Linked DNA regions of Homo sapiens: region 1 is linked to region 2. The links come from fine-mapping of genetic effects on gene expression. A gene starts in region 2. The other region holds a variant in brackets. All regions are shown on one strand. Distances are from middle to middle. Region 1 holds the start of PLCB3 (phospholipase C beta 3). Region 2 holds the start of CCDC88B (coiled-coil domain containing 88B).

Region 1 (8,315 bases), 87 kb before region 2:
CTTGCACAAGGCCTAGGGCCCACAGCTCAGATCCCCTAAGCTCAGGCCTTGGCTCCAGGCTTTGCTAGCCCTGGCACAAGCTGGAGGTTCCACTGCCCCAGAGCTGACCTATGCCCTTTCCTCCCTCCCTGGTATACCCACAGCTTCCAGCTACTCATGTCAATTTGGCATCTCCCACCCATTTGCTTATGTATACAACAACCTTTAGGTTCTGGACAAGGTGACTGAGGCACCTAGAGAGACTAGGTTCTGCCACTAGCAAGAGGCTGCTAGCAAGAGCCGGATTTGAACTCCAGCCTGTGAGGGCAGAGGCCAAGCTCCACCTTGCATGGTTCTGTTTTCCCAATGAGGTCTAGAGGCTCCTGGGCCTCAGGAAGTCGGAGGGTTGAAATCCTCCTAAGAAGCTGTGTGACCTTGGGCAAGTCCCTTCCCCTCTCTGGGCCTCAAGTGGAGATCATAATCACACCCCACAGGGCCAGGGCTGAGAGCGAGGAGATCCGCCAGGTTAGAGTTGATGGAGAACTTGGCGGGGTGTGGAGGAAGGCCAGGGCCAGGCAGGGCTCCTTGTGGAGGTCTCAGAGCCTGGGGCAAAGGGGCCTGCAGGGGAGCTCCTCCTTTGCTGACCCCTCCTCCCCCAGAGCCAGCTGCATCTCTTTCTGGGTTTCTAGGTGACTTGGCTGGCCCCTCTGGATGAGTTCTACTTTAAACCTGCTGCTGTTACTGCCTCTGTATTGGGGGGGCTCCCACAGGGGCCCCCAGGCAGGAACCCCCCCCACCAGCTAAGCCCTGCGGGAGGGGCTGCAGCCCCCACCCATCCCATTGCCCATGCGCCTTCCCCGCTCCCATCTCTGGAACGCAGATTTCAGGGCACCTGCTGTGGGCCAGGCACTGCAGAGCCCCTCCTCAACCCTCCTGTCTGGGGACATCCACAAAGCTTCTGACCCCTCTGGGCAGACAACAGCGTTCCCCCCGCGGTTCCCAGCCAAGAGGCTCACAGTCAGGTTCCAGTCATGGGAGTCTGCAGCAACAAGAAGGGGGCTGTTCTAGGGCTCACTCTCGAAGACCAGGATGCTTGGGTCCTTAAAGGAGGTGGCAGGCGCCCGGCCTCCCTGGGCTAGGGACGGGGGAGGGGTGCCTGCCGGCGGGAGGTCCATTAGCCGGCTAAGTGCTCCCAGGGAGGGGGGACCGCGCGGCATAAGAGTGGGTGAGGCGAAGCCAGGGCAGAGGGGGGCGGAAGAAGCTTTTCCTGCATTCAGCTAAGTGCGGCAGAAGAGGGTGGGCGACAGGGCTGTGCAGCGACCCCCCGGCCCAAGTCTAGCCCTCCGCTGGTACTGCAGCCCTAGTCGCTCGGAAACCTCAGTGGGCTGATCCCGGACCGCCTTAAGCAGCGCCCTCTACACCCAGTCCCTCCAGCTGCTCCCCAACAGCCACTTCGGCCCCCAGCGCCCTCCTTCCACCACAGGCCTGAAGAATCAGGTTCTGCTGAGCCCCGCAGCAAAGCCCCCGACCCGTCCGCGTGCCCCTGCCCCAATCCCCGCTCCGGCTGCAGTCGCCGCCCCGGCCGCCAGGGGGAGCCGACGCGGTGGGAGGGGGCGGGGCCCGGGAGGCCCCGCCCCGTCCCCGCCCCGCCCGGGCCCCGCCGAGGCTCTGGTCGGTCCGGGACAGACTGGCGGGCGGGCGGGCACTGACGCCGCGGGGCCGGAGCGGGCCGCGCGGTGGGAGCAGCGGCGCCGTCGGTCCCCGTCAGGGCTCCGTGGGTCCCCGACCCGCCCCTGGCCGGGCCATGGCGGGCGCCCAGCCCGGCGTCCACGCGCTGCAGTTGGAGCCGCCCACCGTGGTGGAGACCCTGCGGCGCGGGAGTAAGTTCATCAAATGGGACGAGGTAAGCGCGCGGGCCCCTGCTCCGCCCAAATCCCGGGACTCTTTCAGTCAAGCTCGACCAGACGCTGGGGACCCCCACCCCAGCCTCGCCTGCCCGTGGCGCCACCCTCATCCCAGTCTGGCGGCGCCCCGGAAACTTAAGTCCCCGATCGTCTCCGTAATGAAGACTTTGTCCCCCCAACTCCCAGTCCCTCAGCTCTGGAAAATTTGCCTCCACTCCTTGGCGCAGAGACTTTGAACCCCAATAAACCCCGTCCCCCCGTTTTCCATTCGTTCTTCCCACCGCTCCCTGCCAGACTAATTCTCGTTCCCCGATCCTGGCCTGGTGCCCAGACCCCTGCCCAGCACTAGACTCCCCGGCTGCAGGACCCTGACTTCCAGGCTGGCTGGGGGCATCCTCATTCTGGGTGTGTGCCAGGGCGCCCCTACTCTCCCCGGTGCCCTGCCTGAACAGTCCTCGTCCATTCATCATTTTTCCCCCTGTTCTGGTTGGCACCCCTTCGCCCTGCTTCTGGATCCCAGCCCAGCTCCCTGTTCAGATGGGAGCACCCAGTCACCCCCTAGTGGAGACTTTGCCCCCCAAGTTCCTCCACCCCTGGGAACTTTGCTCCCCACTCCTTAGGCTTGGGACCTTGAACCCCAATACATCCTGGCCCCCCTTTCCCTGTCCTGCCCCTGGTGCTTCCCAAATGCCTGTGTCCCCACCTTCGGCTGCCCATCCCCATCCTGGGTGCATCCTCTTCTGCCCCCTGGGCCCTTCCTTCCCTAGGGCCTCCACCCGGCCGGCCTGAGCTTCCTCGCAGCTCCTTCCCAGTCAGGCCACGGGCCTGGAAGACTCTGGGCTCTTTTCCGGCTGGGTGGGGCCCCGGGGTAGGCGTGGGAGCTGGGGGGAGGAGATGGGGGCGTGGCCTGAAGCGGCAGGTGTGCGAGGTGGGGTGCCTGGGGGCCCCAGGGGCCGGGGGAGACCCCTCCCCCCAGGCTGGCCTGAAGGGAAAAGTTTCTTCTTTTCATTCCACTGTGATAAACCCAAATAAGGAAGTGGGAACAGGGAGAGGGCCCTGGGGGTGGGGTGGGGGGTGCTGACGGAGGCTTGGGGCAGGAGAGCAGGGGACCTGGGCTGCCTTTGAGGTCCAGACCCCTGGGGAGAGGTGGGAGGGAAACACTAGGGGCAGTACCCATAGACTCCCCGCTCTGCACACCATTCGGGGGCCTCAGGCCCAGGGTAGGGTTGGGAATCCGGAGAAGTGCTGGGGCTGGGTGTCAGCACACTGAAGTGGGGAGGCCCATGCATCCCCAAATTTTGGGGGCCTTCTGTTCCCAGATGAACGCCCATCTTTTGTAAGCAAAGCCTGCCATGGGTGGGGCTGGTGCAATCCCCATTCTCCAGAAGAGGAAACTGAGGTCTGGAAAGCAGAGAGTTATCCCAGGCCCCACAATGGGGTGTGGCTGAGGCCAGGAGCCGGGAGCCTGGCAGAAGTCTCCGCTCCCTGCTTCCCAGGTCACAGGACGCTGCAACCACACTGCCTGCAAGCAGGTCCTGGCTCCAGTGATCTCGGGCAGGCTACGAAGTGTCCCTGTAACTCAGTGTCCTCATCTGTAAAATGGGAGTGACAACAGCACATGCCTCTTAGGCTGGTTAGGAGGCCTTTGTGTGCTCGAAGATGCTAGGTGCATAGAACTGTACCTGGTGCGCAGTAGGGGCGGTGTGCGTATATGAGATGTATTGATAATAATAGTATTGTCCACCAGACACTGAGATGCATTTTGGGGGTGGCACCCAACATGAGGTGGGGTCCTTTTCTGTCTGGAAGAACCTGGAATAGGAGGGTTCTACCTGTAGCCACTTGTTCACTCTGGCCCTGGCCGAGTCTAAGCCCTGGAGGACAGCCCCTCTGGCTGCTGGTCCTGAGTCACACAGGGTGGCCCTGGTAGTGTGCCAGGGACCGGGCCCTTCTTAGAAAATGGGGCTGGCATGCACTTCCCTGCCCCCTGCCAGCTGCACGGCTGTTTGAGGGAGGAAGAGCTCACTGCCCAGTCCTGAGAGTAGGGCAAGTCCCCTTCTAGGGGGACTGTTCTTCTACGAGATGGGGATGAGCTTTGAGGCTGTGAGGACCCCGGCAGATGTGGTAAGGTGGATAATGGGCTTTGAGGCAGACCACAGGGCTATCGTGATGTCCCAAGGGATGCAGAAGGGCAGTGGGAGTCAGACTTCTCACTTTCATGCCTTAAACATTCTGCAGTGGGGTGGATTGGGGGGCTGCCACTGTCACAGAGCTCTCAGCACTTCTGGGGAAACTGAGCCCAGGATGGGGGCTGGGGACCTCTTCCAGGGGGTGGGTCAGATTTCACGGGTGGAGAAGGAAGGGCAGGGTGTCCTGGCAAAGGGAACATGAGACAAAGCCCTGGGAAAGGTCAGGTAGAATCCTAGGGCCAGAGGGAGGTGAGGCTGGGAAGAGGCTTTGAGGTAGGTGTGACACTAAATGTCACACCTAGGACCTTGGCTTTGTTCTGAGGGCCACAGGCAGCCACACAGGACCTGTGGACTGGATGAGGTTTCGTCTTAGCTCATGGGCAGGAACTCTGGGGTGCATGATGGGAGGGCCCCAGGGGCCAGGCCTGCACCAC[A/T]GCCCTCACTTCCTGACCCCTGCTGCCCTGTGCTGTCCTCAGGAGACCTCCAGTCGGAACCTGGTGACCCTGCGTGTGGACCCCAATGGCTTCTTCTTGTACTGGACGGGCCCCAACATGGTGAGGGTGGGCGCTGGTGCAGCTCGCTCAGGCCAAGGACCCCTGTCCCAGACCCCTGCCCTGCCCGTGGGGGTGGGGCCCGGCTGCAGGCTGACCTCTCCCACTGCTGCCCAGACAGGAAGTGCTCAGGGCAGGAGCTGAGGCTGGGGCTATAGCCAGGGGCTGGCCATTCCCTGGCCTGGGTAGAGAGCTTGGAAGCTCCTGGCTATTGCCCTGCAGCCTCTCATACTCAGCCTGGCATCTGGTTCCCCCCAGGAGGTGGACACACTGGACATCAGTTCCATCAGGGACACACGGACAGGCCGGTACGCCCGCCTGCCCAAGGTGAGTGATGAGCCTGGGAGTGAAGACCACAGCGAGGCTGTGCGGGAGCCCCCTCTTCACCCTTCGCTGTCACCTACTCAGGACCCCAAGATCCGGGAAGTTCTGGGCTTTGGGGGTCCCGATGCCCGGCTGGAGGAGAAGCTGATGACGGTGGTGTCTGGGCCAGACCCAGTGAACACAGTGTTCTTGAACTTCATGGCCGTGCAGGATGACACAGCCAAGGTGGGCTGGCACCAAGGGGACGAAGGGGGAGTCACTGTCTTATTCTGTGAGTCGGCCGTCACTTACCGAACACCTGCTGTGTTCTAGGCTGCTCTGTGACCTACTGTGTACCAGAGGCAGTTGTGGACCTGGGTTGTGGCTGGGCAGCCCCTGTGTCCCCCACTCACCGCCTCCCCGTGTATACTGGCCCCCCAGGTCTGGTCTGAGGAGCTATTCAAGCTGGCTATGAACATCCTGGCTCAGAACGCCTCCCGGAACACCTTCCTGCGCAAAGCGTGAGCCCCAGGCCACCCGAGGGGGAGCCGGGGGGTTCACGTGGCCGTTTTCAGGGTGTGACCTCTTCATCTGCCTTCCCAGATACACGAAGCTGAAGCTGCAGGTGAACCAGGATGGTCGGATCCCCGTCAAGAAGTGAGCACCCCTTCCCCCAGCACCTTCCTCCTGCCCTGACCTTGGTGACCTTTGTCCTCCACTGACCCTGAACCCCTCCTGCCCGCATCAGCATCCTGAAGATGTTCTCAGCAGACAAGAAGCGGGTGGAGACTGCGCTGGAATCCTGTGGCCTCAAATTCAACCGGGTGTGTGGGGTGGGGACAGGGGCGGGGTGGGGTGTCACGGTGGGCACCCACCCTTACGGGGCTGCCCGCCCCTGGCTTCTCACCCCACACTCCTCGACCTCCAGAGTGAGTCCATCCGGCCTGATGAGTTTTCCTTGGAAATCTTTGAGCGGTTCCTGAACAAGCTGTGTCTGCGGCCGGACATTGACAAGATCCTGCTGGAGATGTGAGTGGGCCCGGCCTGCCTCACAACCCCTGTGCTCTGTGTTTAGCTTCTGCTTAGCGTGCCTCTAGCTCAATGGGGAGAGGGGAAACTGGTGGGCCGGGTCCTGGAGCGCCAGGGGGCGGAGGGGTGCCCAGGGAGAACCTGTCGGTGATGTTCCTGTACTCAGACCCGCCGTTTCTGCCCCTCAGTTACAGGCAGCTCTGGGCTAACCCTGTGCCAGGGTTGGTTTAATCAGCCCACTCTGCAATGGGGTCCAAGCCTCAGGTGTGTTGTGAGGTCTGGAAGCGAGGGGTGGTGGGCTGACCACTTGGCAGCTCCTAAGCCCTGGCCATTGCTGGTGCCCACTAGTCTGCTGCCTTGACAATCCTGAGTAGTCAGGAGAGTAAAGGGGGAAACTGAGGCCCAGAGGTTGGCCATGACTCACCCAGAGTCCCACTCACTGGGTGCCAGATCCAGGGGCAGGCCTTCTGACTCCCTTGCCCAGGGCAAGGGCTTGGCGACGGGGTGGGAGCCCTGCCAGGCTCCATCCTGACCCAGCTTCCTGTCCCCTCCAGAGGCGCCAAGGGCAAGCCATACCTGACGCTGGAGCAGCTCATGGACTTCATCAACCAGAAGCAACGCGACCCGAGACTCAACGAAGTGCTGTACCCGCCCCTGCGGCCCTCCCAGGCCCGGCTGCTCATCGAAAAGTATGAGCCCAACCAGCAGTTTCTGGAGCGAGGTGAGCTGGCTGGGGTGCAGGTGGGTGGGGGCAGGTGGGACCCCAGCTGACCCTGCTGATCCTCTCCCACCCCAGACCAGATGTCCATGGAGGGCTTTAGCCGCTACCTGGGAGGCGAGGAGAATGGCATCCTGCCCCTGGAAGCCCTGGATCTGAGCACGGACATGACCCAGCCACTGAGTGCCTACTTCATCAACTCCTCGCATAACACCTATCTCACTGGTGAGTGGGGAGCAAGGGTGGCACCCGTGACCTCTGCCCTGTGACCCTTGCACAGCCCCACTCCTCCTGGGGCACAGTCCTTTTGGCCCATTTGCTCATTCATTGGCCAGTGCTGGGGATGCAGGCAGGGAACAGGCAGCCAGCCCTGAGCAGTGGGGCCTCATGGTGGCTTTCCCAGGGAAGGGCTGGAACAGCTTGTGTTAGGGCCTGCAGCAGGAGAGACTTCAGGGTCCTTTTTTTTTTTTTTTTTTTTTTTTGAGACAGAGTTTCGCTCTTGTTGCCCAGGCTGGAGTGCAATGGCACGATCTAGGCTCAGCGCAACCTCTGCCTCCCAGGTTCAAGCGATTCTCCTGCCTCAGCCTCCCAAGTAGCTGGGATTACAGGCATTCGCCACCACGCCCGGCTAATTTTGTATTTTTAGTAGAGATGGGGTTTCTCCATGTTGGTCAGGCTGGTCTCAAACTCTCAACCTCAGGTGATCCGCCTGCCTCGCCCTCCCAAAGTGCTGGGATTATAGGCATGAGCCACCTCGCCCAGCCTGCAGGGTGCTTTTAAGAGGCTGGAAGGGGGTTGGGTGCGGTGACTCATGCCTGTAATCCCAGAACTTTGGGAGGCTGAAGCAGGCAGATTACTTGAGCCCACGTTTTGAGACCAGTCTGGGCAACATAGCATGACCCCATCTCTACAAATAATTTTTAAAAAATTAGCTGGGCATAGTGGCGCATGCCTGTGGTCCTAGCTGCTTGGGAGGGTGAGGTGGGAGTATCGCTTGGTTCTGGGAAGGTTGAGGCAGGAGTAAGCTGTGATTGCACCACTGCACTCCAGCCTGGGTGACAGAGTGAGAGACCCTTTTCTAAAAAAAAAAATTAAATAAATAATAAAAAAGCAGAAAGGAAGCTGGTGCGGCAGGGTGCAGAGTGCTGGAGATAGGTGCCTGCTAAGAGAGGGAGAGCAAGGCAGGGCTAAGCCCAGGGGCCTAGAGGCACTTGGATTCATCCTGGGTGTGAGGAAGAGGCTTTTTGGAGGGTGAAGCAGAAGAGGTGATGTGACCTGATATGATATGTTTTTAGAAGGATGATGCCAGGTGCTCTATAGAGATTGGATTGAGGCCAGGCACAGTGGTTCACACCTGTAATCCCAGAACTTTGAAAGGCTGAGGCGTGTGGATCACCTGAGGTCAGGAGTTCGAGACCAGCCTGGCCAACATGGTGAAACCCCATCTCTACTAAAAATACAAAAATTAGCCAGGCATGGTGGTGGGCAACTGTAATCCCAGCTACTCGGGAGGCTGAGGCAGGAGAATCGCTTGAACCAGGGAGGCGGAGGTTGCAGTGAACCGAGGTTGTGCCACTGCACTCCAGCCTGGGTGACAGAGCGAGGTTCCGTCTCAAAAAAAAAAAAAAAAGAGATTGGATTG
Region 2 (8,297 bases):
TCCTCCCACCCTCCACCCTCAAGTAGGCCCCAGTGTCTGTTGTTCCCCTCTTTGTGTCCGTGTGTTCTCATCATTTAACTCCCACTTATGAGGGACAACATGCGGTGTTTGGTTTCCTGTTCCTGCATTAGTTTGCTAAGAATAATGGCCTCCAGCTCCATCCATGTCCCACGAAGGACATGATCTCTTTCTCTCTTTTCTTTTTTTTTTTGAGATGGAGTTTCCCTTTTGTTGTCCAGGCTGGATTGCAGTGGTGCGATTTCGGCTCACCGCAACCTCCGCCTCCTGGGTTCAAGCGATTCTCCTGCCTCAGCCTCCCGAGTAGCTGGGATGACAGGTGTGAGCCACCGTGGCTGGCTAATTTTGTATTTTTAGTAGAGATGGGGTTTCTCCATGTTGGTCAGGCTGGTCTCGAACTCCGGACCTCAGGTGATCCGCCCGCCTCAGCCTCCCAAAGTGCTGGGATTACGGGCGTGAGCCACCGTGCCCGGCCTTGATCCTTGATATTATTAATACTAAAGATAATAATCAGGTTGGGTGTGGTGGCTCACACCTGTAATCCCAGCACTTTGGGAGGCTGAGGTGGGCAGATCACCTAAGGTCGGGAGTTTGAGACCAGCCTGGCCAACATGGTGAAACCCCATCTCTACTAAAAAAAATAGAAAAATTAGTCAGGCATGGCAGCGCATGCCTGTAATCCCAGCTCTGTAGGGAGCTGAGGCAGAAGAACCGCTTGAACCCAGGAGATAGAGGCTGCAGTGAGCCGAGATTGCTCCACCACACTCCAGCGTAGGTGATAGGGCGAGACTCTGTCTCAAAAATAATAATAATAATAATAATAATCACCCCAGGGACATTTAATGAAGGCTTGTGCTGGGCATCAAGGCCTGGAATTCTGGCAACAATGAGAGGATCACTCCCATTTCCAGAGGTATTTCAAAAGGGCTGAACAGCTGGCTGTGCTCCTCTGCTACCAATCCTGCATGGCTTCCTGTGGCCTGGTCAAGCCCAGCTCACCTTGACTATGGGTGCCCCTTGCTCCTTGCACTCTTGCCCCACTGCCTTCTTTTAGTTGGCTCTGCCACTTAAAAGCTGTGTGACCTTAGGCAAATTACTTAACCTCTCTGTTCCCTCCTCTATAAAATGGAGATAATCCATAGTCCTTATTTCACAGACTAGTCCAGAGCCAACACGTTAGTAAGTGTAAAGCACTTACAACCATGCCTAGCTCAAGGGAAGCCCGTGTTTGCTATGATGTCATTATTACGCCATATTTCATCAAATCTAAGATGTTGGCCAGATGTAGTGGTGCACGCCTGTAATCCCAGCACTTTGGGAGGTCAAGGCAAGCGGATTGCTTGAGATCAGGAGTTCAAGACCAGCCTGGGCAACATGGTGAAACCCCATCTTTACAAAAAATACAAAAATTAGTTGGGTGGATGGTGGATGTCTGTGGTCCCAGATACTGAGGAGGCTGAGGTGGGAGGATCCCTTGAGCCAGGGAAGTTGAGGCTACAGTGTGTTGTGATTGCATCACTGCACTCCAGCCTGGGTGACAGAGATCCTGTCTCAAAACAAAAAACAAAAAAAAACTAAGATGTCATCGATTATAAAAATGTCACTAAGAAAAGAGAATGCTGCCAGTTAACGATGTCCCAAGGTTCTTTCATCACTAGAATTTTTCTTTTGTATTTCTCGAAAGAGCTCTGTTTCACTTAAATGTAGATTCTTATCATATATAATTCTCATGCACACATAAAAAGGATAATAGAAGCAAAATAAATTGGTTACCATGTTCAGAAAACTCCTTCACATTTAGAGTCCAACTTGTTTGAATCATTTTTGGTCTGAGAGTCGTGATGTCTGTGTCTGCCTGCCACCTCCTTCTCTGAGTCCTTGAGAGTTCTACGGAGAGCAGTACTGCTCCAAACATTCCATAAAACAGCCAGGCGCTCTTAAGCCAGCTTTACAATTGTGCAGATGAAGTGGAGCCGAGTTTTCACTCTGCTCTAGGAGTGTCACTGACAGGCCGGGCGTGGTGGCTCACACCTGTAATCCCAGCACTTTCAGAGGCCGAGGTGGGTGGATTGCCTGAGGTCAGGAGTTCGAGACCAGCCTGGCCAACATGGTGAAACCCTGTCTCTACTAAAAACACAAAAAAGCATCTGGGCGTGGTGGCAGGTGCCTATAATCCCAGCTACTCAGGTGGCTGAGGCAGGAGAATTGCTTGAACCCGGGAGACGGAGGTTGCAGTGACCCGAAATTGCACCATTACACTCCAGCCTAGGCGACAGACACAGCGAGACTCCGTCTCACCAAAAAAAAAAAAAAAAAAAAAAAGGGAGTGTCACTGACAAGCCTGGTTCCCTTCCCCTGGGGTTTCCCACCATTTGAGTCCCAGGGCTAAAAAGGGTTCTGCTTGCCTCTAGGATTTCTTCCAAGCTGCTGACACTCTTCTGAAGGATTTGATGCTGGTGCTTTTCAGGTGTGGGTCCTGACAGTGATGTTGGGACGGCAGCTAGCCAGACAGCAACTGTACCATGTAAACTCACTTCAGAGGTGTAGAATGGGGGCTGCGTGAGGCAGCTCATGCCGTCATCTCAGCCCTTCAGGAGGCCAAGGCGGGAGGATCACTTGAGCCCAGGAGTTCGAGACCAGCCCGGGCAACACAGCAAGACTCTGTCTGTACAAAAAACAAGCAAAATAATTAGCCAGGTGTGGTGGCACACACCCGTAGTCCCAGTTACTCAGAAGGCTGAAGTAGGAGAATTGCTTAAGCCCAGGAGGTTGAAGTTGCAGCGAGTTGTGATCTTGCAACTGCACTCCAGACTAGGTCACAGATTCAGACTCTGTCTCTTAAAAACAAAACAAAACAAAAAGTGAAACGTGAACATTAAGCATCTTGGAATAGATAAAACATGCATAATTTCCAATCTTTTTGCTGACCATGCTTCCAGCTGCCTCAGAGCAGTTGCACATTCTGTTCCTGCTGCCTGGAATACCCTCCCTTCCTTTCCACTTTGCCCTGTTAACCCAGCCATCCCTGATCTCATGCGTACTCCAGGATGCCTTCCCTGATCATCCTGCCGAGGTCAAATCCCCTCCCCTTCATAGCACCTAGTATGGCTACAACAGTCTCGAGTGTATAGAGGATGGGGTGGGGTGAGGTCACAGGAATGATGCTCCCTTCTATCTGGGGTTCAAGGGAGGCTTCTTGGAGGAGCATCTGAACCAGGCTTCCCAGGGGATGTGGTTTGGGTAACTTTGAGAAATACTGAAGGGAAAAGAAAGAACGCTGTAGTGAGTGAAGCCTGGCATTTGGGAAGATGGGTGTGTGGGTGACCAAACTCACCACGCAAGGCCCAGAGCCCTTTTGAGGCCCTCGAAGGTCCCAGGCTGGGGTCATCCTCTCCAGTTTCAGTTTGAGAAAACAAGGCCCAGAGAGGTGAAGGGCTGTTCGGTCATTGCCCATGGAGCCAGGGGAGCTGTGGGCCTTCCGCCGCCAACCTCTGGGCTAGCCCTGCAGAGATGCTAGGAGGATGCAGGGAGGTGAGGTGGGGGCTGAGGTAGGACTCAGACTGCCCAGGCCCGCCTGCACCCGGAAGGAGGAAGCTGCACAGGGTGTCTGTGGCTGGCCCCGGGATCCCCCACTCGGGGACTTCCTCTTCCTCTCAGGGCAGGTGCAGCTGCCACAGTGAGACGGGCACCCCGACCCGGGCATGGAGGGGGGCAAGGGGCCCAGGCTCAGAGACTTCCTGAGTGGGAGTCTGGCTACCTGGGTGAGGGGGCAGGTGGCAGCGGGTTGGGGAGGGGAAGTGAGCCCCAGCCAGGGGCTGGTGTTGGCGCTGGCCGGGGGAGGGTGAGGCAGAACCAGGCCGGAGGGGAGGGCTGGGTTCAAATGTGGGGGATGGAGATATGGTGTGGGGGGCTGTGGTGAGGGAAGAGGGGACAGAGGCACTCAGAGGACGGGTGAGAAGGGGTGCTTGGGCTCACTGGGGCAGGTCGGAGGGGCTCAGGGTTCACTCTGCTGGTCGGCTGACCCCTCTGGGCTCCTCACAGGCGCTGGGACTGGCCGGGCTGGTCGGGGAGGCGGAGGACTCGGAGGGGGAAGAAGAGGAAGAGGAGGAAGAGCCGCCCCTTTGGTTGGAGAAGAGATTCCTGCGCCTCAGCGATGGGGCCCTGCTCCTCCGGGTGCTGGGCATCATGTAAGGGGCATCGGGCCGGGGCGGTGGCGGGGAAGGATCTGAGAGGAGGGGAAGCGGGTGGGCGGAGCCTGATGCTCAGTGGGCGGGGCCTGAGGGACGGTGGGCGAGGCCTGTTGACGGGAGGCGGGTCCTCGAGCCCACCTCCGGCTCATAGTGCCCCCAGCTCCCGAGGGGGACCTCGGATGCTCAGAGGCCTTGACGGACCTGCTGCCTGGCGAGTGTGGAACCTGAACCACCTGTGGGGCCGACTGAGGGACTTCTACCAGGTAAGGGGTCTCGAGGGAAAGGCGGAGACAGGAGGGGAAGAGGAGCCCCTTCGGGAAGGCGCCTCATATAGTCTGCCTCTCTGCCTCCAGGAGGAGCTGCAGCTGCTGATCCTGTCGCCACCCCCAGACCTCCAGACATTGGGATTTGACCCTCTCTCAGGTGCTCTCCCCACCCACACCCTCCTGCCTCTGCCCCCGCACTACTCTACCTTCCCCGCCCCAGTTAACCCCTTGTGGCATGTGCCTTGCAGAAGAAGCGGTGGAGCAGCTGGAAGGCGTTCTTCGGCTACTGTTGGGAGCGTCAGTACAGGTGAGCCGGCGGTGGGAAGGAAAGGTTAGGGTCGAGCTTTGGCGGTAGAGGAGGGAGATCCTGCACCAGCTCCCCTTCCTGTCTCCCCTCAGTGTGAGCACCGGGAACTCTTCATCCGCCACATCCAGGGCCTCAGTCTCGAGGTCCAGAGCGAGCTGGCCGCTGCCATCCAGGAGGTACTGAGACGGTTCGGCAGCCCAGACTGGTATGGCACCTGGGACGCCCTTGCCACACCGCGGCTTCCACTGAACTGCTCTTCCTGCGCCCCAGGTGACCCAGCCGGGGGCCGGCGTGGTGCTGGCACTGTCTGGGCCAGATCCTGGGGAGCTGGCACCTGCCGAGCTGGAGATGCTGTCCCGGAGCCTGATGGGGACACTGTCGAAGCTGGCACGGGAGCGTGACCTGGGGGCCCAGGTAGGGGCAGCAGGGGCATCGTGGACTCAGGTTGGGGAACTGGAGGACCATCAGGGAGCCGGTTGTGCAAGGGAGATGGAAGTTTGGGGCCCAGGCATGGGGTTGTGGTCTGAGGTCTTGGGCCATCAGTGATGTCACAACCAGATGGCCCAAGACCCCAGACCACAACCCCATGTCTGGTGTTGTGGTTGGGGGTCGATGTGCAGAGGCATTGGATAAGTTAGTCCTGACCCTTGACCCCTGACCTACAGCGGCTGGCTGAACTGCTGCTGGAGCGAGAACCCCTCTGCTTGAGGCCTGAGGCTCCCTCTAGGGCTCCCGCCGAGGGCCCCTCGCACCATCTGGCCCTGCAGCTGGCCAACGCCAAGGCTCAGCTGCGGCGTCTGCGGCAGGAGCTGTGAGTGTGCGCAGCCTGGGAAGGGGACTGAGTGGAGAGGGGCAGATTAAGCCTGGATGGGACCCTAGCCCTGGTGGCTACGGGAGGGGTCAGGCCTGGGAAGGGCTGGGGGTTGTGGGCCCCCAGACCCTCCCTAGACTCCCCTTCCCTCCAGGGAGGAGAAGGCCGAGCTGCTGCTAGACTCCCAGGCCGAGGTGCAGGGTTTGGAGGCCGAAATAAGAAGGCTCCGCCAGGAGGTGCGCTCACATGCTCCCCGCCACCGCGGCATTCCCTAACCTCCCCGCACCCGGTCCCATTGCCTCCCTCCCAACCCGGCTCCTTCCCGTCCCTAATCCCTCTGGCCCGCGGCTGGCTGTTCCCAGCTCCACACCGTCTGGCCCAGGCCCAGGCGCTGTCGGGACAGGCCAAGCGGGCCGAGCTGTACCGCGAGGAGGCAGAGGCGCTGCGGGAGCGGGCCGGCCGCCTGCCCCGCCTGCAGGAGGAGCTGAGGCGCTGCCGCGAGCGGCTGCAGGCGGCTGAGGCCTACAAGAGTCAGCTGGAGGTGAGGCGGAGACGGAGCCGCGGGGCGGGGCGTGCGCGAGGGGGCGGGCCAGGAGGAGGGGCGAGATTGGGTCCCGAGGGCAGAGAGGCAGGTTCTCTGGAGGGGACAGTCACAGGTGGAGAAATGGGTGAGGACAAATTCAGGGAGGTGGCGTCTGGGAAAGGGCCTCCAGAGGATGGGGCAGGTGTAGGGGAGTGGGGGGGCTGTGTAAGTGATGCAGCCTTGGAAGGAGGGCTGTTCCCGGGGGGGAGGGGCGGGGCATGGACAGAAGGGCGGGGCCTGCACAAAGGGCGGGGCCAGGGGCGAGGGAGAAAGTACCTGAAGAGATCTTGGTGGGAAGAAGATGGAAGGGAGTGGCGGGGCCTAGAGACTGATGGGGTGCAGGGTGGGGGAGGGAGGCAGGGTCTGTGACAGGCTGAGGGGAAGGAGTTTGGGACCCTCAGGCGCTGGAGTGCATGGGGGCTGCGTGGCTACCGGTTCTCCCTGCTCTCCCACCAGGAGGAGCGGGTGCTCTCGGGGGTGCTGGAGGCGTCCAAGGCGCTGCTGGAAGAGCAGCTGGAGGCTGCCCGAGAGCGCTGCGCCCGGCTGCACGAGACCCAGCGCGAGAACCTGCTGCTGCGAACCCGGCTGGGCGAGGCCCATGCGGTAAGGTAGCCAGAGTGATCCCACTTGGGTTGCCCCGTCACCCCATGACCCCATTGATTCCCTAGTGGTCCCTAGTGATTCTTGCAACCTCTGCTCTTGGTGACCTCTAGTGACCCTCCGACCTACACACTCGGCCTGGCCATGGTGTGGAGGGCTTGTCTGACCCTTCCCTCACCCCCAGGAGCTGGACTCTCTGCGGCATCAGGTGGACCAGCTGGCTGAGGAGAATGTGGAGCTGGAGCTGGAGCTTCAGCGGAGCTTGGAGCCACCTCCAGGATCCCCTGGGGAGGGTGAGGGACCCCACTGGAAGGGCTGGGGTGGGGGCTTCCTATGCTTTCCAGCAGTGTACTGGGGAGAGCCTCTGACTCCCTCCCTTCTCCCAAGCCTCTGGGGTGTGTATGTGAGGAGCCAGGCAGTAAAGGAGGGGTCCTGACCTCATCTCTCATCCTCAGCACCCCTAGCAGGAGCGGCCCCCTCGCTGCAAGATGAGGTGAGGGAGGCAGAGGCTGGGCGGCTTCGGACCCTTGAGAGGGAGAACCGGGAGCTTCGGGGGCTGCTTCAGGTGCTTCAGGGGCAGCCAGGGGGCCAGGTAAGTCCCCTCCCCCAGGGTCCTGGCCGGCCCTTCCCCTAGTCCCTCCCTGGGCCTGACTGTCCCTCTCGTATGCCCTCAGCACCCCCTGCTGGAGGCACCGAGAGAGGACCCTGTTCTTCCAGTGCTGGAGGAGGCTCCCCAGACTCCTGTGGCCTTCGACCACAGCCCTCAGGGCTTGGTTCAGAAGGCAAGGGATGGAGGCCCCCAGGCCTTGGACTTGGCTCCCCCGGCATTAGACTCAGTGCTCGAGGCATCAGCTGAGTGTCCCCAGGCACCTGATTCAGACCCACAGGAGGCAGAGAGTCCCCTTCAGGCAGCTGCCATGGACCCCCAGGCCTCAGACTGGTCCCCGCAAGAGTCAGGCTCTCCTGTGGAGACACAGGAGTCCCCGGAGAAGGCTGGCCGTAGATCCTCTCTCCAGAGCCCTGCCTCTGTGGCCCCACCTCAGGGTCCAGGGACCAAAATTCAGGCCCCGCAGTTGCTGGGAGGAGAGACAGAGGGAAGAGAGGCTCCCCAAGGCGAGTTGGTGCCTGAGGCCTGGGGGTTGAGACAGGAGGGCCCTGAGCACAAGCCAGGGCCTTCGGAGCCCAGCTCTGTGCAGCTGGAGGAGCAGGAGGGCCCAAACCAGGGCCTGGACCTGGCCACGGGACAAGCAGAGGCCAGAGAGCATGACCAGAGGCTGGAAGGGACGGTCAGGGACCCAGCCTGGCAAAAACCACAGCAGAAGTCAGAAGGGGCTCTTGAGGTCCAGGTCTGGGAAGGCCCAATCCCAGGGGAGAGCCTGGCCAGTGGTGTCGCAGAGCAGGAGGCCCTCAGGGAGGAGGTGGCACAGTTGAGGAGAAAGGCTGAGGCCCTTGGAGATGAGCTGGAAGCCCAGGCCCGCAAGCTGGAGGCCCAAAACACGGAGGCTGCCCGCCTCTCCAAGGA

The links.
Region 1: its variant is fine-mapped to the expression of CCDC88B in whole blood (TOPMed, PIP 0.95).

Annotation. Positions count from the first base shown.
Region 1 is chr11:64,249,867-64,258,181 of GRCh38, forward strand. PLCB3 (phospholipase C beta 3) reads left to right here and starts at 1,664. Exons shown (of 31, transcript NM_000932.5): 1 at 1,664-1,882; 2 at 4,549-4,626; 3 at 4,882-4,950; 4 at 5,032-5,172; 5 at 5,368-5,447; 6 at 5,530-5,583; 7 at 5,675-5,750; 8 at 5,855-5,955; 9 at 6,510-6,676; 10 at 6,752-6,898. The coding sequence starts at 1,784. RefSeq lists enhancers at 1-456, 1,751-2,396, 2,397-3,043 and silencers at 1,476-1,945, 2,433-2,646. The variant A/T (reference allele first, on the strand shown) is at 4,507.
Region 2 is chr11:64,336,548-64,344,844 of GRCh38, forward strand. It overlaps CCDC88B (coiled-coil domain containing 88B), which reads left to right and starts at 3,657. Exons shown (of 27, transcript NM_032251.6): 1 at 3,657-3,779; 2 at 4,060-4,205; 3 at 4,360-4,471; 4 at 4,562-4,631; 5 at 4,723-4,781; 6 at 4,874-4,957; 7 at 5,052-5,195; 8 at 5,447-5,592; 9 at 5,747-5,828; 10 at 5,975-6,133; 11 at 6,632-6,778; 12 at 6,960-7,068; 13 at 7,231-7,367; 14 at 7,450-8,297. The coding sequence starts at 3,720. It overlaps MIR7155 (microRNA 7155), which reads right to left and starts at 5,357; the gene lies at 5,302-5,357. LOC102723878 (a long non-coding RNA gene) reads right to left here and starts at 4,245. Exons shown (of 4, transcript NR_188518.1): 1 at 3,994-4,245; 2 at 3,353-3,531. RefSeq lists silencers at 4,196-4,275, 4,296-4,345, 6,210-6,504.